Linked DNA regions of Homo sapiens. The protein of the gene in region 3 binds, or shares a complex with, the protein of the main gene of each other region. Each region holds a gene or a part of one and is shown on either strand. Other genes may lie near its edges. The genes, in order: LAGE3, TPRKB, GON7 and OSGEP. A codon is read from its position in the direction of its gene.

Region 1 (7,029 bases), on a different chromosome or scaffold from region 3:
TTTGAAGAGCACACAGAAGCCCCTGGCCCCCCACGAGAGCTGGAGAGCCATGTATATGGCTTCAAAGCCACCTACGGCAGGGACACACTCGTGAGCATGTGTGGCCTGCAGTTCAGGTGATACATTTACCAGTGTTCTTGTTTGTGTGGTGCCAGGAAATTGATTTTGGAAAAAGTGAAATAACATTAAAGGTGAATGTGAGGCTTCTACTTTTATCCAAAAGGAGCTATATTAGCTAGGCTGTTTCTGATATCCAATCATTGGTTTAACAATAAAGGCAATTTGTTTAATCAGTTAACGGAAATTTCTTGGCTTATGAAAGTGAAAAGTCCAGTGGTATTGGCATTGGCAGCAGGTGAGCAATTTCACCCAGTGTCTTCTGCCTCCCTCTGCGTTGGTATCTGCTACATCCCAGGCCACCACCTCCGAGGATGAAAAGATGGCTGCCTGCAGCTTCCACGGAATCCCTCCCTCACTGCCAGAGCAGCATCTTCTCTGTGTACCACCTCTGCTGTCTCAGATGCCCCCAGCAAATAAACACTCTTCTCGTTGGTCAGAACTGGATTGTGCGTCCAATCATTTTGGCTGGGGTAGGGGGTAATTCTCCGTCAGGGCTGGCTCCCTGGAGCTAGGCATGGGGCCACTTCCCTGGACACACATGGGCTATGCAAGGGACAGAAGGCTCTGGGGGAGGGCTGGATGAATGGATATCCTCAATGGTGGCCGCAAATGGCAGCTGTCCACTACAGGGGCCATGCATGTGTCAGATCAGGGCCACCTCGCAGGTAGTGGAGGAGAGGGCTGGAGGCGTCAAGATCACACAGGGAAAGCGTTTTCTGAGGCTTGGGTTAGGGAAAGCACCAGAGAGAGGAAACACTGCAGGGATGGGAGACAGGAAGTGGGGGGATCGTTAGAGGACACTGGGGATTCTGCATGAAGATGGAGCAGCCACAGGCTGCAGCCCCCCCAATGCTGAGATCCTTTAACAGGGGTCAGAATGTTTACTGCAGGTGCTGCGCCCCTCTGAGCCAATTGTCCGCCCTGAGAGGTAGCACCGAGTCATCCACTGCCCCCTGCCCGGTGAAGGGCCCTGAGACCCACCACCTGCCCCTCAGGGAGGGGCCTCGGGACAGTATCTGAGTCCTGCGGCCATGGTGTGACTACAATGACATCAGGAGATAGCAGCATGAGTGAAGGGCCCAGCTGGGATGAGGTGCTTTTGGTGTCGTTTCCCAAGGGCCCACGGGAGGAAGAGCGGCCTCAGAGGACAGCAGCATTTGCCTTGGGGTGGGGAGGTTCCCTGGCAATGGATCAGCTGGTGTCCCATGTGAGCCTCACCAGCTCCAATAGATCTGCCCGGGCCTGGTACTCCCAGGAGTAGATGCAGCAGAGGTGGCCAGCCTTGAGCCTCCCAGCCCTGAAAAGCCTTCAGGAGAGATGAGAGACACACAGCAACTGCCCTGTCCTCCTCCAGGGCCCAGCTGGAGCGGCCTGCATACACCTTCAGGGCCCCACTGAATGGCCGGCAGTCCTCATTCCTCACCCTCTTCTGCCTTTGCTCTCCCGCTGTTTCCACCACTTGCTCCTACTCAGGCTCTCTTGCTGGTTCTTCACACACACCCCACCCCTCAATGTTGGTGCCCCAGGGCTCTGTCCCTGAGCCCCTTCTCTTCCCTCTGTATCACTCCTCGGGGAGCTCATCCAGCTTGCTTTCTATTTCTGTGCCTCACTGCCATGTCTATGTCTCATCCCGGCCCTCTCTCCTGAGCTCCAGCCCATGTCTTCCAGACAGCGCCTGACTTTGCTGCAGACGACACCCTGCTCATCACTGAGTGCCCCCTTGTGTCCCAGGTGCTGGCAACCCTGAGACTGGAAGACACAGTCCCTTCCCTCTTGGCACTCACGTCCAGCACTGGCCGGCTCCTCAGCACACACGTGTTCTCCACGGCCCGGCTGGAGGACTGGCAATGCCACTCAGCCAGGCTTCTGAGGGAGCAGGAGGCCATCTTTGCCTCTCCCAACTAGCCATTCTCCATAGGCAATCAGGCAAGAATATTTTTGGAAGCATCCAGGGCAGCTGCTACTGTATCCTTTCCTCCTCTGACCACACTCACCCCCAGCCCCTCATCAGGCAGCTGGCAGGGTCAGGCTGCCCCACTGTTGAGGACGCTCAGTTTGATCACGTGATCCAGGTGGCTGCTGCCAGATCTCTCCCCTGTAAAGACGCAGTTTCCCTTCCTGATTCACAAGTAATTTGGGGTAATATTTGGGGACTTTGTGAATATCCTGTCCCCAACAACCTTTCAGCTAATGCTTTTGCCATCCAGCGACAATTCCTTGCCTGAATCGATTTTTTTTTTTTTTTGTGAGACGGAGCCTCACTCTGTCACCCAGGCTGGAGTGCAATGGCGTGGTCTCGGCTCACTGCAATCTCTGCCTCCTGGGTTCAAGAGATTCTCCCGCCTCAGCCTCCTGAGTAGCTGAGACTACAGATGCATGCCACCACAGCCGGCTAATTTTTTTTGTACTTTTAGTAGAGATGGGATTTCACTGTGTTGGCCAGGCTGGTCTCAAACTCCTGACCTCGCAATCCACTCGCCTCGGCCTCCCAAAGTGCTGGAATTACAGGCGTGAGCCACTACACCTGGCCATCCTGAATCAATTATTAAGTTAATAACAATTAATTATTACATTGGTGGTTGCAAAGATGGTAATTTTCTGATAGTTTTTTCTACAGCTATTACTTGCCATTTCCCTATAAAAACCTTTCCTTTATCTCTGCTTTCTTTCCTGAATATCATGGACTTTTTTGTTTGTTTGTTTGATTGAGACAGAGTCTCAGTCTGTTACTTGTGCAGAGTGCAGTGGCTAGATCATAGCTCACTGTAGCCTTGACTTCCTGGGCTCAAGCAATCCTCCTGCGTCAGCCTCTCTGGTAGCTGGGACCGCAGGCACACACTGTCACAGCCGGCTAATTTTTTTTTTTTTTTTTTTGAGACAGAGTTTTGCTCTTGTTGCCCAGGCTGGAGTGCAATGGTGCGATCTGGGCTCACCACAACCTCCACCTCCCGGGTTCAAGCCATTCTCCTGTCTCAGCCTCCCAAATAGCTGGGATAACAAGCTCCTGCCACCACAACTGGCTAATTTTTGTATTTTTAGTAGAGATGGGGTTTCACCATGTTGGTCAGGCTGGTCTGGAACTCCTGACCTCAAGTGATCTGCCTGCCTTGGCCTCCCAAAGTGCTGGGATTACAGGCATGAGCCACTGCGCCCAGCCCCATGCAATTTAAATTAGAAATTAAAAAGTCATTCTGCGGTGTGGTGAATAGGTTGTAGAGGGGAAAGTGTAAAAGAGAATCAGCCAGGAAGCTGTTGAGGGAGGTCAAGGAAAGATGCTGGCTTCCACAGCAGACTAGCAGTGGAGAGCGAGAAGTGGGCTGATGTGGAACCTATTTCAGAGGGAAACCCAACAGGATTTGCTGATATAGTTCAGTGTTTAATCCTTCCTTATGACTGCAAAGGAGGAAAATAGGTTGTCCAAACATGACAAACACTGTTGGAAATTTTATGTCACTTTATTTATTCATTTTTTATTTTTATTATTTTTCTTTTTGAGACAGTCTCCCTCTGTCGCCCAGGCTGGAGTGCAGTGGCGTGATGTCGGCTCACCACAACCTCCACCTCCCGGGTTCAAGTGATTCTTCTGTCCCAGCCTCCCGAATAGCTGGGACTACAGGCGCACACCACGACACGCAGCTAATTTTTGTTATTTTTAGTAGGGCCGGGGGTTTCACCATGTTGGCCAGGATGGTGTTGAACTCCTGACTTCAAGTGATCCACCCGCCTCGGCCTCCCAAAGTACTGGGATTATAGGCGTGAGCCACCGTGCCCGGACTGATGTCACTTTAAATACTTTTTTTTTTATTGTAAATGTCATAAAAGACCACTTCGGAAAAATTGGAGGGAAAACACAAAAAGGAAATTAAAGTCACCCACCATACTATTAGCAGAGATCATGAGGATTTACCTGACGCTGTATTGTTCTAGGATTTCTCTACATATGTACAGTAAGAGACTAAGTTGGCATTTTCTTTTATTTTTTGAGGCGGGGTCTGGCTCTATCAACCAGGCTGGAGTGCGGTGGGGCGATCACGGCTAACTGCAGCCTCTGCCTCCCGGGCTCAGGCTGTCCTCCCATCTCAGCCTCCCTAGTAGCTGGGACCACAGGTGTGCACCATCACACCCAGCTAATTTTTGTATTTTTTGTAGAGGCAGGGTTTCACTATGTTGCCCAGGCTGGTGTCGAACTCCCGGGCTCAAGCAATCAACCCTCCTCAGCCTCCAAGAAGCTATGACTACAGGCACGCTCCACCACTCCCAGCTAACTTTTAAAATTTATTTTTGTATTTTTTGTAGAGACGGGGTCTCACTATGTTGCCTGTGTTTGTCTTGAACTCCTGGGCTCAAGTGATCCTCCTCCCTTGGCCTTCCAAAGTGCTGGGATTCCAAGCGGGGGCCACTTTGCCTGGCCTAAACTGGCATTTTCATACTCATAGTTGTGCAGTCTGATTTTTCACGTTATATTAGACCTAGACCCACCGCCAGTACTTTCATTCAAGGCCCTGTCATTTTTCGCCTCCGTGCAGGCCTCCTGCTGACAGGCTCCCCCGCTCTGCACAGCCCACCCGCTCTAAAATGCTTCCTCTAAAATGCACATCCGATGCTTCACAGTCCATGGTGAAGCCCCGTTGGTTGGGCACTGGGGTTGAGGGCAAGAGCAGTATCCTTGGGGGTTACCCGACCCGGCCACCCTCCCTCTGCGAATCGCAACATGGACGTTGTGCCACATCTCCTGGGGCTCTTGGGTCCAGGTAAGAAACGGGGCGGGAAGCCGTCCAGGCACCGCAGGGCCTCACTGGGGCCTCCAGGGACAAGGGGGAAGGCCCCGCCAGCGCAGGCGCGCTAAGGTCACAAGGCGCGCTTAGGGGCGGAGCCTCGCGGGGTGCGCCTCTGGGATAGGCGACCACGGTGTCTTCAAAAGCCCCGTCAGGGTTGGCTTCCTGGGGCCGGACCGACTGTGGGTCAGTTTGCACCAGCGCTCTGGAATCGAGTTACGCGCGAAAGGGCAGAGTTTCTGGAGGAAACCGCAGCCTCTCAACCGCTGACCGGGTCTCAGAAGGCCCCCGGCAGGGCCGCTTGGCGGGAACTGACCACGCGCCAGTCAGGCTCTCCAGGGACCTGCGCAGGCGCGTGTGGGCGGAGTCGTGCGCAGGGGGCGGGGCTTCGGGAAGGAGCCACAGAGAGGGCGGGGCGTAGGACCTGCGCTTCGGGGGTGGAGTCGGAGCGGCGCGGCGGCGGTCATGCGGGACGCGGATGCAGACGCAGGCGGAGGCGCTGACGGCGGGGATGGCCGGGGTGGCCACAGCTGCCGCGGGGGCGTGGACACAGCCGCAGCTCCGGCCGGTGGAGCTCCCCCAGCGCACGCGCCAGGTCCGGGCAGAGACGCCGCGTCTGCGGCCAGGGGGTCACGAATGCGGCCGCACATATTGTATCCTTTCCGAGCTGGGGGCTGCTTGCGGCGGAGCGAGGGCTGGACTCGGGGAGAAGGAAAGGAGGGCGGGCGGGGGGCCGACGGAAAGGGTAGCAGGGGGGGACCGGGGCTGGCGTATACGGTCAGAGGTGGTCGGAGGAGGGGAAGACATTGAAATGGAGGGAGAAGCTCTGCTAACGGTGGCCTGGGCGAGGTAAGGAGTGAAGGGGGTGACACTAGGCAGGGTGACCTGAGAGGGGGCTTCAGAGGAGCAAGAAGGCCTGAGACATAGGCAAGATCGTATCAGATGGCACCTTAACCGAATGACCCCCAGCACCCTCAGCGTGCCTTTCCCGACCCCCTTGGAGGCGGAAATCGCCCATGGGTCCCTGGCACCAGATGCCGAGCCCCACCAAAGGGTGGTTGGGAAGGATCTCACAGTGAGTGGCAGGATCCTGGTCGTGTAAGTTCTGAAAGGGACGGGGTTGGGGGAGGCGGCCCATGGAGACATGGGGGACATCCAAGGATGAGCCCTAAGGAGCGCCAGGTGCGCTGGGCCGGTCTCTGCCTGAGGGGCTGTGTAATGGCAGGGCTCCCAAGGGTTTGCTATATTGGGTGCCTGAGGGGCAGAGCGAGGGACCAGGAGTTGCCACCTCCAATTTGATTTTCTTTTCCCCTCACTTTTAGCCGCTGGAAAGCTGAAGACTGTCGCCTGCTCCGAATTTCCGTCATCAACTTTCTTGACCAGCTTTCCCTGGTGGTGCGGACCATGCAGCGCTTTGGGCCCCCCGTTTCCCGCTAAGCCTGGCCTGGGCAAATGGAGCGAGGTCCCACTTTGCGTCTCCTTGTAGGCAGTGCGTCCATCCTTCCCTAGGGCAGGAATTCCCACAGTTGCTACTTTCCTGGGAGGGCCTCATGTTTTATCTGGTTCTTAAATGTTTGTTACTACAGAAAATAAAACTGCGCTACTATTCCAAGTCTGAGTTTATTTGCAGCTGGGGCACCTCCCAATATTCTTGTTGTGCTTGGGTTGCTGGGGGGGGGGTTCTAGAATTCAGATATTCAAGGAGTACAAGGAAATTGAAGACAATTTAGGAAATGGAAGAAAATGAAAATCAATTGGGTTCTGTCATTCAGGATTAACTACTGTCAACATTTTGGAATACTTCCTCAGTTTTACAGTTGCACTTACATAGTAAATGTGTAACTGTAATATACACCACATAATATTTGCAAGTTTAGTGTTAAATTTTTTTCCTGATTTTTAAATCTAACATGAGCTTTTTTCCTCTAACGATCAGTGAAGAAAGTGCTGGGGCAATTGACTAGTGTCTGGGGCAAGGAGTTGGCTCCCTGGAAAATACAGTGTCTCCAGCCTTAGGGCTCTTTTATAGATTCTATCAGATTTTCTGAGAGTGAAAAGGAAGAGGTACAACTGCTTTTATTCTCAGAAAACAAGGAAATGGTTTGATCCTTTTGAGTCTTGCTTTGAAGATGTG
Region 2 (5,001 bases), on a different chromosome or scaffold from region 3:
CAGCACTTTAGGAGGCCGAGGCGGGTGGATCATCTGAGGTCAGGAGTTGAAGACCAGCCTGGCCAACATGGTGAAACCCTGTCTCAACTAAAAATACAAAAATTAGCTGGGCGTGGTGGCGGGCGCCTATAATCCCAGCTACTCGGGAGGCTGAGGCAGGAAAATCATTTGAACCCTGGAGGCAGAGGTTGCAGTGAGCCAAGATTGCGCCATTGCACTCCAGCCTGGGCGACGAGCAAAACTCTGTCTGGAAAAAAAAAATGGCCAGGCATGGTAGCTCACGCCTGTAATCCCAGCCCTTTGGGAGGCCGAGGCAGGCAGATCATGAGGTCAGGAGTTTGAGACCAGCCTGGCCAATATGGTGAAACCCTGTCTCTACTAAAAATACAAAAATTAGCTGAGCATGGTGGTGGGCACCTGTACTCAGGAGACTGAGGCAGGAGAATCGCTTGAGCCTGGGAGGCAGAGGTTGCAGTGAGCCGAGATTGTGCCACTGCACTCCAGCCTGGGCAACAGACCAAGAATCCGCCTCAAAAAAAAAAAAAAAAAAAAAGAATGAATGAGCCATACAGGGCATTTAAGTATACATTAATATTTGTGATGTTATAGGGTAGCCTAAAAATCTGTCACGGTTAGGGAAAAAATTCTTGTCCAAGTCAGATGCAGCCAACTTTGACTATAACAGTGAATAGAGGCAGAAGTGCCAGGTCCTGCCCTAGGAAATAGGAAAGGTTGTGGTCTGGGTCTAATATGGGAAATGCCTGGATCTCCAGCTTCTCATCTTTAAAATGGGGGTTCCTAACAAGACAGTCTGTAGAGGAGGAATAGTGTAGTGGTTAAGAGTACACACAGAGGCCAAGGTGGGTGGATTGCTTGAGGCCCGGAGTTTGAGACCAGCCTGGCCTACATAGTGAAACCGTGTCTCTACTAAAAATACAAAAAGTAGCTGGGTGTGGTGGTGTGTGCTGGTAGTCCCAGCTACTCGGGAGGCTGAGGCACAAGAATCATTTGAACCTGGGAGGCGGAGGTTACAGTGAATTGAGATTGAGCCACTGCATTCCAGCCTGGGCAATGGAGCGAGAGACTCTGTCTGTCTCCAAAAAAAAAAAAAAACAAAAAAACAGGGCACACGCAGTGCGATCATGTTACCGGGAATTAATCCCAGACCTACTACTTAGGCCTTTGAACAAGACATAACCAACCTTTATATAGTGCTTACTGCATTCCTAGCATTGTTCCAAGTGCTTTACGTATACTAACTTGCTTAATCTTCACAACAGCCTATGGAGTGAATACTGTTTCATCGGTCTCTAACAAATAAAATGCTAATGAACTTGCATAAGTTTCCTAGGTGATAGGTGACAGAGATGGGATTCAAACCCAGACATTCTTTGCCTCAATTTCCTCATCAATTACATACTACTACTACTGCTACTACTACTAATAATAGTGTCAATTTCATAGGGTAGTTTTGAGGATTAAAGAAAATATTACAAGTAAAATGTTTGCAATATGATCATGCCCATAATATTAGCCCTCAATTAATGTTATTTAAAAAAATTTTACTATTTGCATAAGTTCCTTGCAGCTTTAAAATTCTGTGATTTCCTGACTACCCAGGCCCTTGGGATAATAGTTGTTTTTTGTTTTTTTTTTTTTTGAGACAGTTTCACTCTTGTTGCCCAGGCTGGAGTGCAATGGCGCGATCTTGGCTCACGGCAACCTCTGCCTCCCGGGTTCAAGCAATTGTCCTGCCTCAGCCTCCTGAGTTGCTGGGATTACAGGTGCGTGCCACCACGCCTGACTAATTTTTGTATTTTTAGTAGAGAGGGTTTCGCCGTGTTGGCCAGGCTGGTCTTGAACCCTGACGTCAGGTGATCTACCCACCTTGGCCTCCCAAAGTGCTAGGATTACAGGTGTGAGCCACCGTGCCCAGCCGGGATAATAGTTTTGAAAATACAGACCGTAAGAATTGTGATGAAGTAAAACAGCTTGACACTGGAGTTAACCATGAGTTACCATGTGTTTTCAGGCACTGCAGATTCTCCATGTGTAATTAATTCTTTTTCCTTGCTTTGGTAGATTGTTGATCCATTTCAGATACTTGTGGCAGCAAACAAAGCAGTTCACCTCTACAAACTGGGAAAAATGAAGACAAGAACTCTATCTACTGAAATTATTTTCAACCTTTCCCCAAATAACAATGTAATGTGCACTTTCCTATTTCTGTTGACCGTGTCATAATAACATATGTGTTCCTCAGTGTTGGGTTGGAGGCTAAATTCCTGCAAGCCAGTGGTTAGTAATAAACCCAAATAATAGTGAAGAGAGCTCTGGACAGAGAGTTGAGGTTTAACCCTGCCTCTTACTAAGACAGTTTACATATGAGTAAACAAAAATTTAGCTAAATTAAGCGAGGTTAATTTTATCTGTTCTTACCATATAGGGTCAGGAAGACCCCTCAAGTATTTTTGCTTGAGAAGCTGACAGAAATCTAAATGATAAAACATTAGGCGTGGATATTTTGTGTGCTAGCCTGCATATCATTCTCTCTTCCCGTAAACTCCTTGAGGGTGGGATCCATGTCTTTTTCATATACCAGGAACTTGCTTGTACCTATAACAGTCCTTAACACAGCCTCACTCACACACCCAGTACATAGGTAGAGTTTGTGGTTTGAAATACTTATAGTAATGCTTTTTCAATGAAAGTTATCAAGCTAAAGACATCACACATGTAGCACATGAAAAAAATGACTGCAATTTTGCTGATGAAGTTTTAGTATTACTGCTGCTGTTAATAACAACCAGGTACTAATGTCATCTACAGGAAACCTGTAGCATAGGTTAAAATACAGATGATTGACAAGTTTATAAAATGCAGTTATCTCAGCATGGTAATAGAGATTCCCAGTACCTGGAATAAAATTTACTAATTATGGTTTCCTTGAGATCATTAGACATAATTCAGAAAACTCTTGAATTCAGTAAACATCTGTTGAACTTTTTCCCCGTTCCATTTACAGTTCTAGGGGCAGAAGAGGCAAATATGTTCCTGAGGAGAGGCAGATAAACAAGACAAGTTAAAATGCCCTAAGATAAATGATATAATGGGAAAATGAATTCAAATCTAGGGGTACAGCAATGAAGCCATTCATTTTGGAGGGAGGAGGGTGTGGTGGGGAGTGGCATCAGAACTGTGGACCCTGAAGCATGTGTTCAGCAGCCAAGCCATGAGGAGAAGGGACATGCGAGCAGAGGACAAAGCTTGAGCACAGGCAGAAGGGCATGAAATGTGACTGGATCCCCAGGCAGGCTGGACTGGCCAGAAGGCAGAAGCGCCTGGCTGGAGGGCCACTTGGCACCAGAGGGAGGAGGTGTTTTTGTGCAGCGCCAAGAGGCTGGGCTTGATTCCATAGGAACAAGGCGTACCTTTAAGCAGGGAGTGCTTTTGAGGAAGTGCCAATGGATGTTGGAAAGGAATCATTAAAGTGAAAAAGTAGGCAGTGAGAACTGTTAGGACATGAAAAATAAGAGCCTGACCAAGGAAGAAGGCAGATCAGGAAATGTTTCAGACGTAGGAAACAATGGTTAATGATCTTGTGTTTTTTTTTTCATTTTTTTTCTCTTAGATTTCAGAGGCTTTGAAAAAATTTGGTATCTCAGCAAATGACACTTCAATTCTAATTGTTTACATTGAAGAGGGAGAAAAACAAATAAATCAAGAATACCTAATATCTCAAGTAGAAGGTCATCAGGTTTCTCTGAAAAATCTTCCTGAAATAATGAATATTACAGAAGTCAAAAAGGTTTGCCAGTCCATATTTTTAGAAAGAGTGTGATAGATGAGCAATAATGCTGATGCCGTTTGCCTATTGATCACCAGAGCTCCTTGTTTTTTGAACTTTTGAGAAAGTTAATCTAATTTTAAAAATTACTTAAAAATTACAGATACAAAGAACTGGGAGGTGTGATGGTTTATGTAAAATATAATTACAAACTCAGCTGACATAACCATTCTCCACATTAAGAAAGAGAATACCTTTAAATATCAAACTTACATAGTATATTTAAAATGTAAAATAAATTTAGTATGCTTTTAAAATGGATAGAAATTTGGTTTTTATGTTCTTGAGAGTTACTCCCATAGCAGCAATTTAAAGGGGATACAAGTAATGAATTGCCCTCTACTTTGAATATTTTAATCACATTTGTTGTTTGTTATACCATGAACCCAATAATTGAATGAGGAATAATTTCACTTACACATGTTTGTATAATGACAATTAGTAGTGAATGACGATATCAGCAAGTCATAATTTGTCTTTCATTTTTACAGATATATAAACTCTCTTCACAAGAAGAAAGTATTGGGACATTATTGGATGCTATCATTTGTAGAATGTCAACAAAAGATGTTTTATGAAATGTCAGAAATATTAACAAAAATTCTCAGCATTAAAGAAAACATTGATTTTCCTTTCCTGACTATAAAACTAATTGTGCATTATAGAAAAGTTTAAATCACAGAATGGTATTAAAAAAAAAAAAAAAAGGCCAGGCACGGTGGCTCACGCCTGAAATCCCAGCAATTTGGGAGGCCAAGGCAGGTGGATCACCTGAGGTCAGGAGTTCAAGACCAGCCTGGCTAACATGGTGAAACCCCATCTCTACTAAAATACAAAAATTAGCTGGGCATGATGGCAGGTGCCTGTAATCCCAGCTATTCGGGAGGCTGAGACAGGAGAATCGCATGAACCTGGGAGGCACAGGTTGCAGTGAGCTGAGATCGTGCCATAGCACTCCAGCCTGGGCAGCTGAGCGAGACTCCGTCTCAAAAAAAAAAACCAAAAAAAAAAAAAACAAAAAAACCACTTGTAGTCCTACCTCGTTGTATTTTAAAAGATAATCAGTTACTATTACTTGTTATTGCCTTCTAGAGTTCTGTTTCTATTCAAATATATTTTATTTTTATATAATTAGAATAAAAATTGCAAACACT
Region 3 (7,352 bases):
GCACCACCATGCCCAGATAATTTTTTGTATTTTTAGTACGGGGGGGTTTCACCATGATGGCCAAGCTGGTTTTGAACTCCTGACCTCAAGTGATCCACCTGCCTCGGCCTCCCAAAGTGCTAGGATTACAGGTGTGAGCCACCGTGCCCGGCCTATTTATTGTTTTTGTTTGTTTGTTTTGAGATGGAGTCTTGCTCTGTTGCCAGCTGGAGTGCAGTGGCGCAATCTCGGCTCACTGCAACCTCCGCCTCCTGGGTTCAAGCAATTCTCCTGCCTCAGCCTCCCAAGTAGCTGACCGAGTAGATGACTGGGTGCCACCATGCCCAGCTAATTTTTGTATTTTTAGTAGAGACAGGGTTTCACCATGTTGGCCAGGATGGTCTCGATCTCTTGACCCTATTTATTGTTTTTAAGTCATATCCGCTGATTTAAAAGCCTCAGAGAATAAGTACAACCAATATAATTAAACCTGAATTACTTTCAAGTACATCTCTCCCCCAAACCTTTCATATTAATTACCATCTATCTTGTAGGCTCTCAACAGTTTATATAGTTTTTCTAACAAAGTAAAAAATGAAATGGCCATCTGCAAAGAATAAGCATAAGAACTTCTTTTTTTGGAAAATACAGGTATTTGTTTTTTTACCCACTCTGGCAAATATTAACCTCAGCTGCTCTAAATGCATTTATAGTTACAGTGCTTACTTACAGGAAGTAATTTGCATTCCAAATTTTTAAACTTGCTGTTTCCACAATCACAACGAAAATTTCTGAAAAAAGGAGGAAATAACAATTTTATTTTTCTTTTTACAAAATCCAATTTAAAATTTCTTCAAGCATTCAAGCACATAGTAAGACTTCACAATTCGGGAAATTAATATGTACAAAAGCAAATATTTATATCACATACAAACACACAAGTAAAATGATGGCAGGGAAAGATAAATGGTTTGAGTTTGTACCATATTATGTTTTTAAAGGCTCTAGAAACAACTCTCTCCAATTATATAAAATAATTACATTAAATTTCATTAGTGCTGGGCGAGGTGGCTCACGCCTGTAATCCCAGCACTTTGGGAGGCTGAGGCGGGCGGATCACGAGGTCAGGAGATCGAGACCATCCTGGCTAACTCGGTGAAACACCGTCTCTACTAAAAATACAAAAAATTAGCTGGGCGTGGTGGTGGGAGCCTTTAATCCCAGCTATTCGGGAGGCTGAGGCAGGAGAATGGCGTGAACCCGGGAGACGGAGCTTGCAGTGAGCCTAGATCACACCACTGCACTCCAGCCTGGGTGACAGAGCAAGACTCCGTCTCAAAATAAATAAATAAATAAATTAATTAATTAATTTCATTAGTGTTCAACTGCTTTGCATGAAAAAACAAGATTAGGAAAAAGTGTAGATGGGAAAGAATCTATACTTCAAAAGCATTTAGTAACAATCTCTTGACTATGTTTACCTTTTTGTGTATAGCTCAAATAGTTTGTGACTTCCATGACATTCATAACTGCAAGCTAAACAAATTCCTGCTGGTTCTTCTCCCTCTGGGGTGCAGGTACTACAGGCATATAGTGCTTGTCTCTTTACTGAGCCCTGAAAGCCCCCAAAATGGAAAAGAGAATTAATGTAGTAGCATGGTTTACCTAATACCCACACTAGGAACTGAAAAATAATTAAAATCAGATTATCTGTGGTCAAGATCTTTCTGTAAAAACCATTAAGACTAAAAAGTTTACACAACAGAGCATCAACCAAAACACAGTTGCGTTGCAAGTTTCATTTTTATACTAGTGCTTTTTTTCATGCAAGCACTTTTTTCTTTCTTCCTTATTTATTTTTTGCAGAGATAAGGTCTTGCTATGTTGCCCAGGCTGGTCTCAAACTCCTGGGCTCAAGCAATTCTCTGCCTTGGCCTTCCAAAGTGCTGGGATTACAAGCATTAGCCACGACACAAGCCAGCACTTCTTTCTTAAAGTGATAGGAAGTCTGAATTTGTCAATCAGCTGTGAATAAATGGATCTGTTTAATCATTTTAATATGTGAAAACACAGGAGCATATGTACAGGTTTATGTAAGTAACATCACACTTTCATCCTGGAAAATGTTTGTAAATCTACCAAAGAAAGAATCAACACATGCAAAGAATCCCTTTGATTTTTAGGAGATGCCTGCTGAAGTATTTAGAGGTATAGTGTCATCGTGTCTGCAACTTATTTTTAAATAGTTCAAAATTTTAAAACAGCAAATTTTAAGTAGAAAAGGAGATAAAACAAATGTGACAAAATGTTAAAAAGTGAATATGTAGGCTGGGCACGGTGGCTCACGCCTGTAATCCCAGCACTTTGGGAGGCCGAGGTGGGCAGATCACTTGAGGTCAGGAGTTCAAGACCAACCTGGTCAACGTGGTGAAAACCTCATCTCTAGAACACCCCATCCACTAAAAATACAAAAATTAGCTGGACGTGATGGCGGGCGCCTGTTATCCCAGCTACTTGGGAGGCTAAGACAGGAGAATCACTTGAACCCAGGAGGTGGAGGTTGCAGTGAGCAGAGATCATGACATTGCACTCCAGCCTGGGTGGCAAGAGTGAAATTCCATCTCAAAAAGAAAAAAAAAGTGAATATGTATAAGAGGTATAGTTACCTTCCTCTAGGAAGGAGGAAGATAGATAAGGAGGCTTCCGGGATGCCAGTAAGGTTCTATTTCTTTTTCTTTCTTTTTTTTTTAAAGTTCTATTCCAATAAGCCTTTTGCACTCCTAATGTTCTATTTGTTGATCTGGGTTGTGGGAACACGCACACTTTCCTTTCAAGCTGTGTACATGATTTGTGCAAATTTCCGTATTTTTTTTTTTACCACAAAGAAAATATTAAGGAATCCATTTTATAAAGGTAACTACACTTCAAAAATAGTTTACATATAGACATAACTTTTTTCTTTTTTTTTTTTTTAAGTAAAGCAGGGGAAAAATTGTTTTAGTGGTGACCAAAGGTTTTAAAATACCTGGGGCTATGTCTGGATACCAGGTTTATTCAACAATCTAGCACTTTGCAGTGTAAACTAACCTTGGTCAACAACGAGAACTGGTATTATGATCTCAGTTCATACCACATAATGAATACAAGTCTCTCCCCTCATCTCCCCAGTGTTCCAATCCACCCCTCTTCCTAGGTAACCCTTCTTCCTACCAATTCTCATCCTTTGTCAGTCTTCTTCCTACCCATCCTTTTCCATTTTTGTACCTCGAAGTGTAGGGTGAGTCACTAAACACCACATCACACCCCCTCAAACACTTGCTCACTCACAACGTCTTCCAAATGCCAAACAGATCCTTTTCTCCTCTCTCCCCTCCCTTGCCAGAGCCACTTGCTGTTCTGTTTCCGGTCTATTTCCAGGGGAGGGGGGCAGACTGCAGATAGACATGGGTACTTGCTTCATTTTGCCAAAAAAAGAAAGAAAGAAAAAGTACTAGCTAGCACTTGTCCAACTAAATTGCAGAGGAACTAGCTGTCAAGGAGCTCACCGCAAATCCCTATGGATTTGAAAATCTCTTTAACCTGACTCTCCCATTCGGTCCCTAATAAATAAATAAATAAATAATCTTAGGATGGGAAAATCAGGGACAAAGATGTCTGGATCTGAGAGGTCGCGGGGTGGTTTCGTGAAAAGCAGTGGTGCACCAAGAAGAGGCTGGAGAGGACGGACAGAGCAGCTGCTCCAGGGCCCTTCCTGGCGGGCCGGACAGAGTTGGAGACAGGGGAGAGGGGGGCCCCTGCTGGACACAGGCTGAAGGGGGCCCAGGAGGTTGGGGTTAAAAGGGAAGGGTGAGCTTGGGGTGAGGAAGCGGCAGACTAACGGCGGCCCCGGACCACCACTGGGGAGACGACTGCGGCAAGGCGGGAATAGGGACAGCCGGGCCGGGAAGGGGAGGTTCGGCGGGAGCCGGGGGAGAGGAGGCCCGGGCCGCGCGCCCACCTGAGAGTAGGAGCACTTCTCGGAGTCGCTGCCGCCCAGGACAGCGCACGCCTCATTCTCCAGCTCCTCGTCCTCCTCAAGGACGTCGACCAACGATACCACGGGCTCCAGCTCCGACTGCCGCCCAGCGGCGCCCTCGGCTCCGGCCATCCTCAACTGTCAGCCGAACAGCGGCTCGGCCCCGGCGGAGGCGGGAAAAGCGGCCGTGAGGGGCGTAGCCGGAGGAGGTGGGGCCCGAGTGCCAGGAACCAATGACAAGGAAAAAAAGCGAAGGAAGGGGGAGGAGCGACTTCCGACAAACGGATGTCACTCCTCTCCCTTCTCCCGCCTGCGCCGGACGCGGGCTGATTTCCGCCTCCGGGTGGCGCTTCCCGGTGTCGTGTTCTGGAAGCTTAGCGGTCACCATGGAGCTGCTGGGAGAGTACGTCGGGCAGGAAGGGAAGCCGCAGAAGCTGCGGGTGTCCTGTGAGGCGCCGGGTGACGGCGACCCTTTCCAGGGCCTGTTGTCTGGCGTGGCCCAGATGAAGGACATGGTAACGGAATTATTCGACCCTCTGGTACAGGGGGAAGTGCAGCACCGGGTGGCGGCGGCTCCAGACGAGGACTTGGACGGTGAGCTCTGAGACGGTGCTGCAGTGACCGGAGGACGGGGCGGGCGCCCAGGGGAAATTGGCTTGGGGAGCCCGTGTAGAGTGGCAGACTTGGACAAAGTGAGCCTCGAGGAAAGAAGAATTGCATCTAAAAATTTTTGGCGGGCTAGGCGAAGTGGGGCTCACGCCTGTAATCCCAGCACTTTGGGAGGGCGAGGCAGGAGGATCACTTGAGGTCAGGAGTTCCAGAACAGCCAGGGCAACATATCGAGACCCCGTTTCTATTATTATTTTTAAAATAATTTAAAAAATAAAAATTGTTGGCATTTATCACTATATTTATTTGGGCTGCTTCTACTCAAGCGTTTCCACAACTCATCGCTATTTCGTTTATTTCACAAAAAAACGTGTCGAATGCCTACTATTATGTGCCAAACCCTGAGCTGAGCCCTGGAGGAAGAATGAGGTGAATGCGACTCAGTTCCTGCCCTTGTGAAACACAAGGGGACTAGACAGGCAGACACTCTTATTAAAAGTGGAAGTGGTCCGGGCTGGTGGCTCACGCCTGTAATCCCTGCACTTTGGGAGACCGAGGCAGGCAGATCACGAGGTCAGGAGTTCGAGACAAGCCTGGCCAATATGGTGAAACCCTGTCTCTACTAAAAATACAAAAATTAGCTGGGCGTGGTGGCATGCTCCTGTAGTCCCAGCTACTCTACTCGGGAGGCTGAGGCAGAAGAATCGCTTGAACCCTGGAGGCAGAGGGTGCAGTGAGCCGAGATCGCGCCACTGCACTCTATCGTGGGCGACAGAGCGAGACTCCGTCTCAAAAAAAAAGAAAAAAAAAGTGAAAGTGGTTCTGTGGTCCTCTGTAACTGTTGCAAACCCAGACACCCTAGGAAGTCTTCAGAAAGGATAAGACTTTTGAGCTGGGTGTTGAATAAAAAGGAGTTTTATCAGGTGTGAAACTACAGACATACTTGGAAGAGTACAATCTATCGCAGAGTAGGAACAGGTTCCAAAGACTGGGACAGACTTCATTTTATCACGTATTAACTCCCAGAGACTCCCTTGCCTTTCCAGTTTTGTAGGTGCAGTTTGAAAGTAGAAACATGAAGTTTAACTGCATTATTTTTAAAAAATTGCCTCGAATGCAGAAATAGGCAGGTACTTTTTTTTTTTTTTGAGATGGAGTCTAGCTCTGTCACTCAGGCTTGAGTGCAGTGGCACAACCTTGGCTCACTGCAACCTCTCCCTCCCCGGTTCAAGCGATTCTCCTGTCTCAGCCTCCGGAGTAACTGGGATTACAGGCACCCGCCCCCACTCCCAGCTAATTTTGTATTTTTAGTAGAGACAGGGTTTCACTGTGTTGGCCAGGCTGGTCCCGAACTCCTGACCTCGTGATCCACCCGCCTCAGCCTCCCAGAGTGCTGGGATTACAGGCGTGAGCCACCACACCTGGCCAGGCAGGTACATTTTAACCGTCCTGAGCTGAAAAACCCAAGAACTAGATATTAGAGTCAGGATTTACAATTATGTAAGAAGAGCTTAAACTGTACTTTCCTTCCATCTTGGGAAATACATCTTGATAATATGGATGTTGGCTATAATCAAAAAGAACAATAACAAGTGTTGGCTGGAATGTGAAGAAATTGGAGACCTTGTACATTGTTGGTGGAAATGTAAAACAGTGTAACCACTGGGAAAAAGAGTTTGGTAGCTCCTCAAAAAGTTGACATGAAGTTACCATATGACCCAGCAGTTCCACTGGTAGTCCTCCCAAGAAAACTGGAAACGTATGTTCACACAAAAACTTACGCATGAATGTTGATAACAGCAGCATTTATAGTAGCTAAAACGTGGAAACAACAATTGGCTGGGCTTGGTGTTGCGCCTTTAGGAGGTGGGAGGATCATGTGAACCCAAGAGTTTGAAGCTGCAGTGGGCTGATTGCTCCACTGCACTCCAGCCTGGAGGACAGAGTGAGGCCTCATCTCTTCATCTCTAAAAATGATAATTTTAAAAAATAGAAATAATGCAAATATCCATCAACCGATGAGTGCATTAACAAAATGTGGTATATCCATACAATGGACTATTATTAGCAATAAAAAGTAATGAAGTATTAACATGTGCTACAACATGAATGAACCTTGAAAACATTATGCTAAGTGAGAGCCAGACACAAAAGGGTACATGTTGCATGATTTTGTTTATATGAATGTACAGAATAGGCAAATCCATAGAGATAGAGTAGATTAGTGAGCCAGGTGCAGTGGTGGGCACCTGTAGTCCCAGCTACTCTAGAGGCTGAGACAGGAGGATCACTTGAACCTGGGAGTTTGAGTCTAGCTGGGCAACATAGCAAGACCCTATCTCTAATAAGGGGGAAAAAAAGTAGATTAGTGGTTGCCGAAGGCTGAGGGGAATGGAAAGCGACTGCTAATGGGCATATCATTTCTCTTTGGAGTGATGAAAGTGTTCTAGGTGATGGTTGCACAAGCTAGTGAATATACTAAAAACCACTAGGCCGTACACTTTTTAAAAGAGTGGATTTTGGCCAGCCACAATGGTTCATACCTGTAATCCCAGCACTTTGGGAGGCCGAGGCGGGCGGATCACGAGGTCAGGAGAACAAGACCATCTTGGCCAACATGGTGAAACCCCATCTCTACTAAAATGCAAAAAATTAGCCGGGCGTGGTAGCGCGTGCCTGTAATCCCAGCTACTTGGGAGGCTGAGACAGAGGAATCGCTTGAACCCCGGAGGCGGAGGTTGCAGTAAGC
Region 4 (6,829 bases), about 73 Mb from region 3:
TGCTGTGTTTGGGCCGGGCTCTTTATTGGGCCTGTATGAAGGTCAGCCACCCTGTCCAGAACTTCTCCTGAGCCTGATGACCCACAGACTGTGCCTGGCCCCTCCCTGGTGGGGACAGTGACACTACGAAGGGAGCTGGGGTAGTTAAAGGCTCCCGGGGCTTCTAGAAGGAAGCCAAGCAGCTGCCTTCCTTTTCCCTGGGGAGAGGTAGGAAGGAACCAGGCCCTCACTTAGGTTTGGAGGGGCAGATAAGAGCACTGCTGACCATCTGCTTTCCTCCAAGGGTTGCTGTGTCTAGGGTGAAGTAGGCAAAACGTTGCCCTTAAAACTGGGCCCTGAAGACGGTTCCAGCCTTGTCCTTCCTGTGTGCTCCCTGAGAGCCATTCCTGTCCCTTACACATTCCAGGGCAGGGTGGGGGTGGGTAGCCCTGGGGGTTCCCCTCCCTCTTGTGCACCATTAGGACTTTGCTGCTGCTATTGCACTTCACCAGAGGTTGGCTCTGGCCTCAGTACCCTCAGTCTCCTCTCCCCACATTGTGTCCTGTGGGGGTGGGGTCAGCCGCTGCTCTGTACAGAACCACAGGAACTGATGTGTATATAACTATTTAATGTGGGATATGTTCCCCTATTCCTGTATTTCCCTTAATTCCTCCTCCCGACCTTTTTTACCCCCCCAGTTGCAGTATTTAACTGGGCTGGGTAGGGTTGCTCAGTCTTTGGGGGAGGTTAGGGACTTATCCTGTGCTTGTAAATAAATAAGGTCATGACTCTACGCTTTTTCAGTTGTTAACTTGTGTGCATGAAAATATGAGGAAGAGAATGTGTAGCCCCACGAAGGGGTAAGACACGAAGACAGCAAGGCTGAAACTATGGCTCTTTATTTTCATGTGGATAATTCAAACAAAGTCATTAGTAGTCTTTGTTCAATTTTTTTTTAAAAAACAAAAAACCCTCAAATAAAAAATCTTGGGCTTAAAAGAACTCTATCACAGGAGCCTGGTTGGAGGATTCCTAGTTTTATACATGAGAAATAGAATGCAGATTTCTCTGAAGAGTGTTTAAAGAAGGAATGGTAGTTGAGGGGGCTTATTTCCCAGGCTCAAAGTGATTTAGGGGTGGTGTCACAGTGCTAGGTATAGGGTGATAGGACAGTGATCACTGCCGAGGGCCTTGGAACGGATCTTGCTGTCACACAATGCAGGTAACAGAGAGTGGGACAACAAAAAGTAATCAAGGCGCCAACCAACATTCTTGGATCGAGCATTCATCATATAAGTCCAAAAGGTGTAGGCATAGGGTGTGTTGGGGTAGAGGTGCCTAAAGCTGTCAGCCAGTGGCACAGCCTGCAGTAATTCCCCGAAGCCTTGGCGCTCTTGTGGCGTGAAGCCAGCATTCTTTTTGTTCCCCTTGGGGTTGCGAAGGTCAATTTCTTCATGTGCCACATTGAGGTCTCCACACAGCACAAGGGGCTTTCGGGAAGCCAGGCCCTTCAGGAACTTGCGAAAGGCTTCATCCCAGCGCTGCCGGTACTCCAGTCGTACCAGACCTCGGCCTGCATTAGGTACATATGCTGTTACCAGCACAAACGAGTCAAATTCAGCCACAATCACCCGGCCTTCCTGATCATGCTCCTCATCGCCTATAGAAATGAAACAGAATTAGCATAAAAAACTATAAGAAAAGGGAAAGCAATCAAGAGGTGGGGCAGAGATAGAGAATTAGCAATTGGTTTTGAAGAGTTCAGGCATTAGGCATCAATAGGGTCTCACCTATGCCGTAAGAAACTTTGAGTGGGCACTGGCGGGAAAGCAGGCCCACGCCACTGTACCCTTCCTTGTCCGAAGGAGCTGACCAGTATTGATGAGAGAGTCCAGGCAGCTCCTGAAGTTCAGCTGGTAGTTTGTTCTCTGAACATTTGGTCTCTTGAAGGCACAGTATATCTGGGGCTTCTTCCTTTACCCACTGTAAGTGAAAAGAAAGGTGGAAAACGTATTATCAATTCAGCAGAACATTTATTGAATAATCTATATGCTAAGTCATAGATACGCACGGGTTAAACAGTCTCTTGGCCTAAGGAGTTCGAGTCAAGCAGCACAATATTCAAACAATTCTAAGCTAGATAAATGAAAACAAATATAGAGAGGTAAGAAAGTCTTACATGCTATGCCAAGGAGATGTGTTTTTTCTATAGGCAGTGGATAGCAAGCTAAGATTTTTAAGCTATGGTTAATGGAATGGAGGACATGCTTCATATGGAATGCAATGCAGGAAGATAAAATGGAGGAAGTATAGTGAAGAGGTTTTTGCAACATTCTGGGAAGAGGAGAGAACACTAAAAAAGAAAATGGCAATGGAAGTGAAGGAACAGACATTTAGGAAATACAACTGGCAAGACTGGGGAAGCCCCACAGAAAACTACGGGCAGGAGAAAAATAAAACAGCCTGAAGGCTAAACGGAGAAAAGGGGTGACTAAACCCTAAGACCATTCAATACTAAAAAATGTCTCTTTCCCTCAAATTCCACTCACATCTAATCCTTTCTTCTTAATCCAGGCTCGAAGCCCATCCACATTCCAAGAGCAGATCTTGAGTGTGGCAGGTTTGCCACTGGGTGAGGTTTTCTGATCTGGGGGGTCCTCATACAGGGCTGGGCCCTCTCCTGCTGCCTCTTTGTCATTTTTCTTTGCGGCCGTCTTACTCTTCTTGGCCTCTGGCTCTATAAAATGAGTAATATATACTGACAAAAAGCTGGTGGTTTCCAACTGCGATCCGGCGTTAACTATAGACCCAACGAAAGCCTACGGTTCCTGCGACTTCTTCACAAACCCCTGCAAAAATGAGTCGGCCCGTACTTACCGTACATCAAGGGAATGACAAACACCCCCGCCGCAGCTTCTAGGAAGAAGGGCTGATTTCATTCCCTTACCTGTCCTGAGCTCATCCCCGTCTTCCGCCACCGCTCCCTTTTTCCCACGCTTCGGCATTCCCGTTACGAACGCCCTTGGGCAGCTGTACCGCGTCACCCACCGAAGCAATATTTTTACCGCGTTGCCTACAGACGCAAAGAAATCATGAAACCAGCTAAGGCTGGGGAGAAGACTCCTCCCAAGAGCGTCCCCGCACCAGGTCCCGCCTTTCAAACCACGTTATCTCTAAATCCTTTCCCCGCCTCCGTGCATCATAGGCCCTTCAGCCCCTCACCCACGAAACTAGATCATTTCATAGTGCCTTGTACCCTACTCGCGAGATCTGCCCTCCAGCCAATTGAGGATCTTAATTAAGGGTCCTGACTCAAGCTTGCCGTTCAGACTGCCAGCGAAGCCCCTCTTATGAGCAAAAGAGCAACCCCGTATCTGCACCGGCCCGATGGCAGCCTAGCTCCTCCTAACCCGAGCACAAAGAAGGGTGCACGCTGAGCCCCCACGTGGGTAGCGGACCTGGTCACGTGATCAGAGGCGCGCTTGTCGTGGCCGAAGAATGCGCGTGATTGGTCTGTCTGACACCACGTGACGGAGACGCTTAGCCTCGCCTCCCTCCTCTAATTCTCTAGGACACTTAGGTCCCCAACCCTCCCTCGGGCTGTTTATCGTTGTGCCAGATGCACAGCACATTGTGTGACACTGACTTAAGATTCTAACTATGTGCAAGAGGGAAAAAAACAGTGGAGAAGGCTGGGCTGGACCACGGGAAAGAGATAGGAAAACGGATACGAATGTAAGGCACAGAGTTGGCTCGGCGTCCCTGGCAGTTAGGAAGACAGGTCCCTGGAGGGGCCTTGGCGGGTCTCCGCTCGCGGGAGTTCCGCGGTGTCTTTCCCAGTGCTATCTGCAGGCTGGCCAGCTTCCTCTGCGCTCCGGAAAGCTGCGGCCCAGCGCGGACTAGTGAGGACCTCCACAGCTCCTGACATTGCCAGGAGTCCTGTCGGCGTTTTCTCCCAGCCTCCGCCATGCCGGCGGTGCTGGGTTTTGAAGGCAGCGCCAATAAGATTGGCGTGGGCGTGGTGCGGGATGGCAAGGTGCTGGCGAACCCGCGGCGGACTTACGTCACGCCTCCTGGCACAGGTTGGTGAGTAGGGGACTTAAGAGTTTTCCGCGCACTTCCCCGCACAGAATCAGCCTTCCATCTTCCTAAATACTAGTGAGGTGCAGCTTTCGATCCGAGTCTCATTGAAATTATGTGACATTATTAACGTCACAAGGCTGATGACTAGAAGAGTTACAGGCACTTGGACGTGGATCTGATGAGTTCATTTACCTTTTACTGAGCGCATTTTATGTGCTAAGTATTCAGAAATAGATGTTATACTGCTGTGGAGTCAGACATATAAATAGATGTTTATACTACAGCATGATAAACAGTATAATAGAGATGGACTCGAAATATTCTGTTTAAAAAACGCTTAGCAGGAGTATAGATTCCAGTTGCCCTGAATATACACTCCCTTTTTAAAAAAAAATTATTTTTTGAAATATTCTAGGATGAGTAGAGAGATGAGAGTGGAAAGACTCCCGGCTTACATGTCAGACAGAACTGGCTGGCTTTGCTATATTCATATTAAATATTTTTGTTTTGGACATTTGGTCTTTATTTTTTATTTTATTTTATTTTTTTGAGACAGAGTCTTGCTCTGTCGCCCAGGCTGGAATGCAGTGGCACGATCTCGGCTCACTGCAATCTCTGCCTTCCAGGTTCAAGCGATTCTTCTACCCCAGCCTCCCAAGTAGCTAGGACTATAGGTGTGCGCCACCACATCCAGCTAAATTTTGTATTTTTAGTAGAGTCGGGGTTTCCACCAGGCCAAGCTGGTCTCGAACTCCTGACCTCAGATGATCCGCCCACCCCAGCCTCCCAAAGTGTGGAAATTACAGGCATGAGCCACCGCTCGGGCCTGGTCTTTGTTTTTAAAATGGGAATAATACCTGTATCATTAGGTCTTGAAGATTAGATGAAAGTACCAAACACGGCTGGGCGTGGTGGCTCACGCCTGTAATCCCAGCACTTTGGGAGGCCAAGGCAGGCAGATCACCTGAGGTCGGGGTTCGAGACCAGCCTGACCAACATGGAGAAACCATGTTTCCACTAAAAAATACAAAAAATTAACTGGGCGTGGTGGCGCATGCCTGTAAACCCAGCTACTTGGGAGGCTGAGGCAGGAGAATTGCGTGAACCCGGGAGACAGAGGTTGCAGTGAGCCGAGATGGTGCCATTGCACTCCAGCCTGGGCATCAAGAGTGAAACTCTGTCTCAAAAAAAAAAAAAGTACAAAACACATTACAACTTTTAATTGATATTTTAAATAAGCTATTATATCTTGCTACTCTCCCCTCAAACACTTGCATACATAGGAGAGGGCAGCTGACTTGCATGTATCTGAAAAGCCTCCCTGAACAGGTGATGTTGTGACAGATACTCACTAGAAATATATATGTATGTTTAGCATTCACTCCTCTGGGCACTTGGGCACTGGGAATACAAAGATAAATAAAATACTCAATGCTTTGAGATATTCATGATTAAGCTGAGCAAACCACAGAAAATTATAATGCTGTAATTGTTATGTTAAATAAATGACATCATCATGCATAGAGTTCTGTAGGGTCACAGAGAAAGAAGATCACCAAAGGCCAGGCACGGTGGCTCAGGCCTGTAATCCCAGCACTTTGGGAGGCCGAGGCAGACGGATCACGAGGTCAGGAGTTCGAGACCAGCCTGGCCAATATGGTGAAACCCCGTCTCTACTAAAAATACAAAAGTTAGCTGAGCGTGGTGGTGTCGCCTGTAGTCCCAGCTACTCAGGAGGCTGAGGCAGAAGAATCTCTTGAACTCAGGAGGTGGAGGTTGCAGTGAGCCGAGATCGTGCCACTGCACTCCAGCCTGGGTGACAGAGCTGAGACTGTCTCAAAAGAAAAAAAAAAAAAAAAGATCACGAAAGGGTATGAGGTAGATACTACTTGCATTGAGACCTGAAGGCTGAGTAGGGTAAGAAGAAGAGCATTTCTGAAAGTTGAATAGCCTATATAGAAGCCGGAAAGAGTAGATGTGAAAATGTGGAAGATAGGATGCTTGGGGAAAGTGAAAGGACTCTTACTACATCACTAAAACTCCTGTTGCTTTCTTTAACTTCCTACCTACCTTTGCTACAGAAAATCCCTGTGATCTCTGACCTATGTTCATTTTCTAGGATTCCTTCCAGGTGATACAGCCAGGCATCACCGAGCTGTTATCCTAGACCTGCTGCAGGAGGCACTAACAGAGTCTGGATTAACCTCCCAGGATATCGACTGCATTGCATACACCAAGGGTATGGCTGGGAGAGTGGTCAACGATGGAGGAATATACCTGCAACCTGGCTAGGTCAAAATAGCCAACACCTTACCTCTGCCACCATCACTACCCCTACCCCACCTCACATCCCTTATGTCCCCCACTATTGTTTTTTTCCAATCTCTAGGATTATAACTTCCATTTCTATCTCCCTAGGCCCTGGCATGGGTGCCCCACTGGTTTCTGTGGCTGTTGTGGCCCGTACTGTGGCCCAACTGTGGAATAAGCCATTGGTGGGTGTGAACCACTGTATAGGCCACATTGAGATGGGCCGCCTCATCACTGGAGCCACCAGCCCAACCGTGTTGTATGTGAGTGGAGGAAATACGCAGGTATTTAGAGGGCTCTACCCACTCCATCTCAATTTCTGAGGCACTGAACCAGTATTTTCTTTGTTCTATCTGAGTCATGGGAATGTCAGGAACAAAGATGGACTTATCTGAACCTAAAATACTGTAGACCAGAAAACCCCCAACAGAGTTTGTAACATTGCAAATTTTGGCAG

What was found.
Region 1: the proteins of GON7 (region 3) and LAGE3 are in contact, whole or in part, in a crystal structure (PDB 6GWJ), measured with the Homo sapiens proteins. Residues at the interface, in NP_115879.2 of Homo sapiens: Met1 (codon at 4,381), Glu2 (codon at 4,384), Leu3 (codon at 4,387), Leu4 (codon at 4,390), Gly5 (codon at 4,393), Glu6 (codon at 4,396), Tyr7 (codon at 4,399), Val8 (codon at 4,402), Gly9 (codon at 4,405), Gln10 (codon at 4,408), Leu17 (codon at 4,429), Asp28 (codon at 4,462), Pro29 (codon at 4,465), Phe30 (codon at 4,468), Gln31 (codon at 4,471), Leu33 (codon at 4,477), Leu34 (codon at 4,480), Val37 (codon at 4,489), Met40 (codon at 4,498), Lys41 (codon at 4,501), Val44 (codon at 4,510), Thr45 (codon at 4,513), Leu47 (codon at 4,519), Phe48 (codon at 4,522), Asp49 (codon at 4,525); in NP_006005.2 of Homo sapiens: Pro60 (codon at 5,538), His61 (codon at 5,541), Ile62 (codon at 5,544), Phe63 (codon at 5,547), Thr64 (codon at 5,866), Leu65 (codon at 5,869), Ser66 (codon at 5,872), Val67 (codon at 5,875), Pro68 (codon at 5,878), Phe69 (codon at 5,881), Pro70 (codon at 5,884), Glu74 (codon at 5,896), Arg102 (codon at 5,980), Ile103 (codon at 5,983), Glu111 (codon at 6,231), Cys113 (codon at 6,237), Leu116 (codon at 6,246), Arg117 (codon at 6,249), Val120 (codon at 6,258), Ile121 (codon at 6,261), Leu124 (codon at 6,270), Asp125 (codon at 6,273), Leu127 (codon at 6,279), Ser128 (codon at 6,282), Val131 (codon at 6,291), Arg132 (codon at 6,294), Met134 (codon at 6,300), Gln135 (codon at 6,303).
Region 2: GON7 (region 3) and TPRKB share a complex: the UniProt entries of both Homo sapiens proteins name them as parts of the EKC/KEOPS complex.
Region 4: GON7 (region 3) and OSGEP share a complex: the UniProt entries of both Homo sapiens proteins name them as parts of the EKC/KEOPS complex.

The regions. Positions count from the first base shown.
Region 1 is NC_000023.11:154,477,247-154,484,275, reverse strand, and holds LAGE3 (EKC/KEOPS complex subunit LAGE3), read left to right. Parts: upstream 1-4,994; 5' UTR 4,995-5,360; coding exon 5,361-5,548; intron 5,549-5,864; coding exon 5,865-5,993; intron 5,994-6,217; coding exon 6,218-6,332; 3' UTR 6,333-6,501; downstream 6,502-7,029. UniProt on the Homo sapiens protein: Component of the EKC/KEOPS complex that is required for the formation of a threonylcarbamoyl group on adenosine at position 37 (t(6)A37) in tRNAs that read codons beginning with adenine.
Region 2 is NC_000002.12:73,729,367-73,734,367, reverse strand, and holds the end of TPRKB (EKC/KEOPS complex subunit TPRKB), read left to right. Parts: intron 1-1,663; exon of another isoform or gene 1,664-1,667; coding exon of another isoform or gene 1,668-1,784; intron 1,785-2,082; coding exon 2,083-2,205; intron 2,206-3,631; coding exon 3,632-3,808; intron 3,809-4,338; coding exon 4,339-4,425; 3' UTR 4,426-4,495; downstream 4,496-5,001. UniProt on the Homo sapiens protein: Component of the EKC/KEOPS complex that is required for the formation of a threonylcarbamoyl group on adenosine at position 37 (t(6)A37) in tRNAs that read codons beginning with adenine.
Region 3 is NC_000014.9:93,204,066-93,211,417, reverse strand, and holds the start of GON7 (EKC/KEOPS complex subunit GON7), read left to right. Parts: upstream 1-4,352; 5' UTR 4,353-4,380; coding exon 4,381-4,588; intron 4,589-7,352. Other genes in the region: putative E3 ubiquitin-protein ligase UBR7, read right to left, coding at 710-770, 1,461-1,594, 3,977-4,126. UniProt on the Homo sapiens protein: Component of the EKC/KEOPS complex that is required for the formation of a threonylcarbamoyl group on adenosine at position 37 (t(6)A37) in tRNAs that read codons beginning with adenine.
Region 4 is NC_000014.9:20,451,801-20,458,629, reverse strand, and holds the start of OSGEP (tRNA N6-adenosine threonylcarbamoyltransferase), read left to right. Parts: upstream 1-3,817; 5' UTR 3,818-3,946; coding exon 3,947-4,061; intron 4,062-6,181; coding exon 6,182-6,301; intron 6,302-6,480; coding exon 6,481-6,656; intron 6,657-6,829. Other genes in the region: PIP4P1 (type 1 phosphatidylinositol 4,5-bisphosphate 4-phosphatase), read left to right, coding at 1-71; DNA repair nuclease/redox regulator APEX1, read right to left, coding at 1,122-1,639, 1,770-1,962, 2,529-2,716, 2,927-2,984. UniProt on the Homo sapiens protein: Component of the EKC/KEOPS complex that is required for the formation of a threonylcarbamoyl group on adenosine at position 37 (t(6)A37) in tRNAs that read codons beginning with adenine.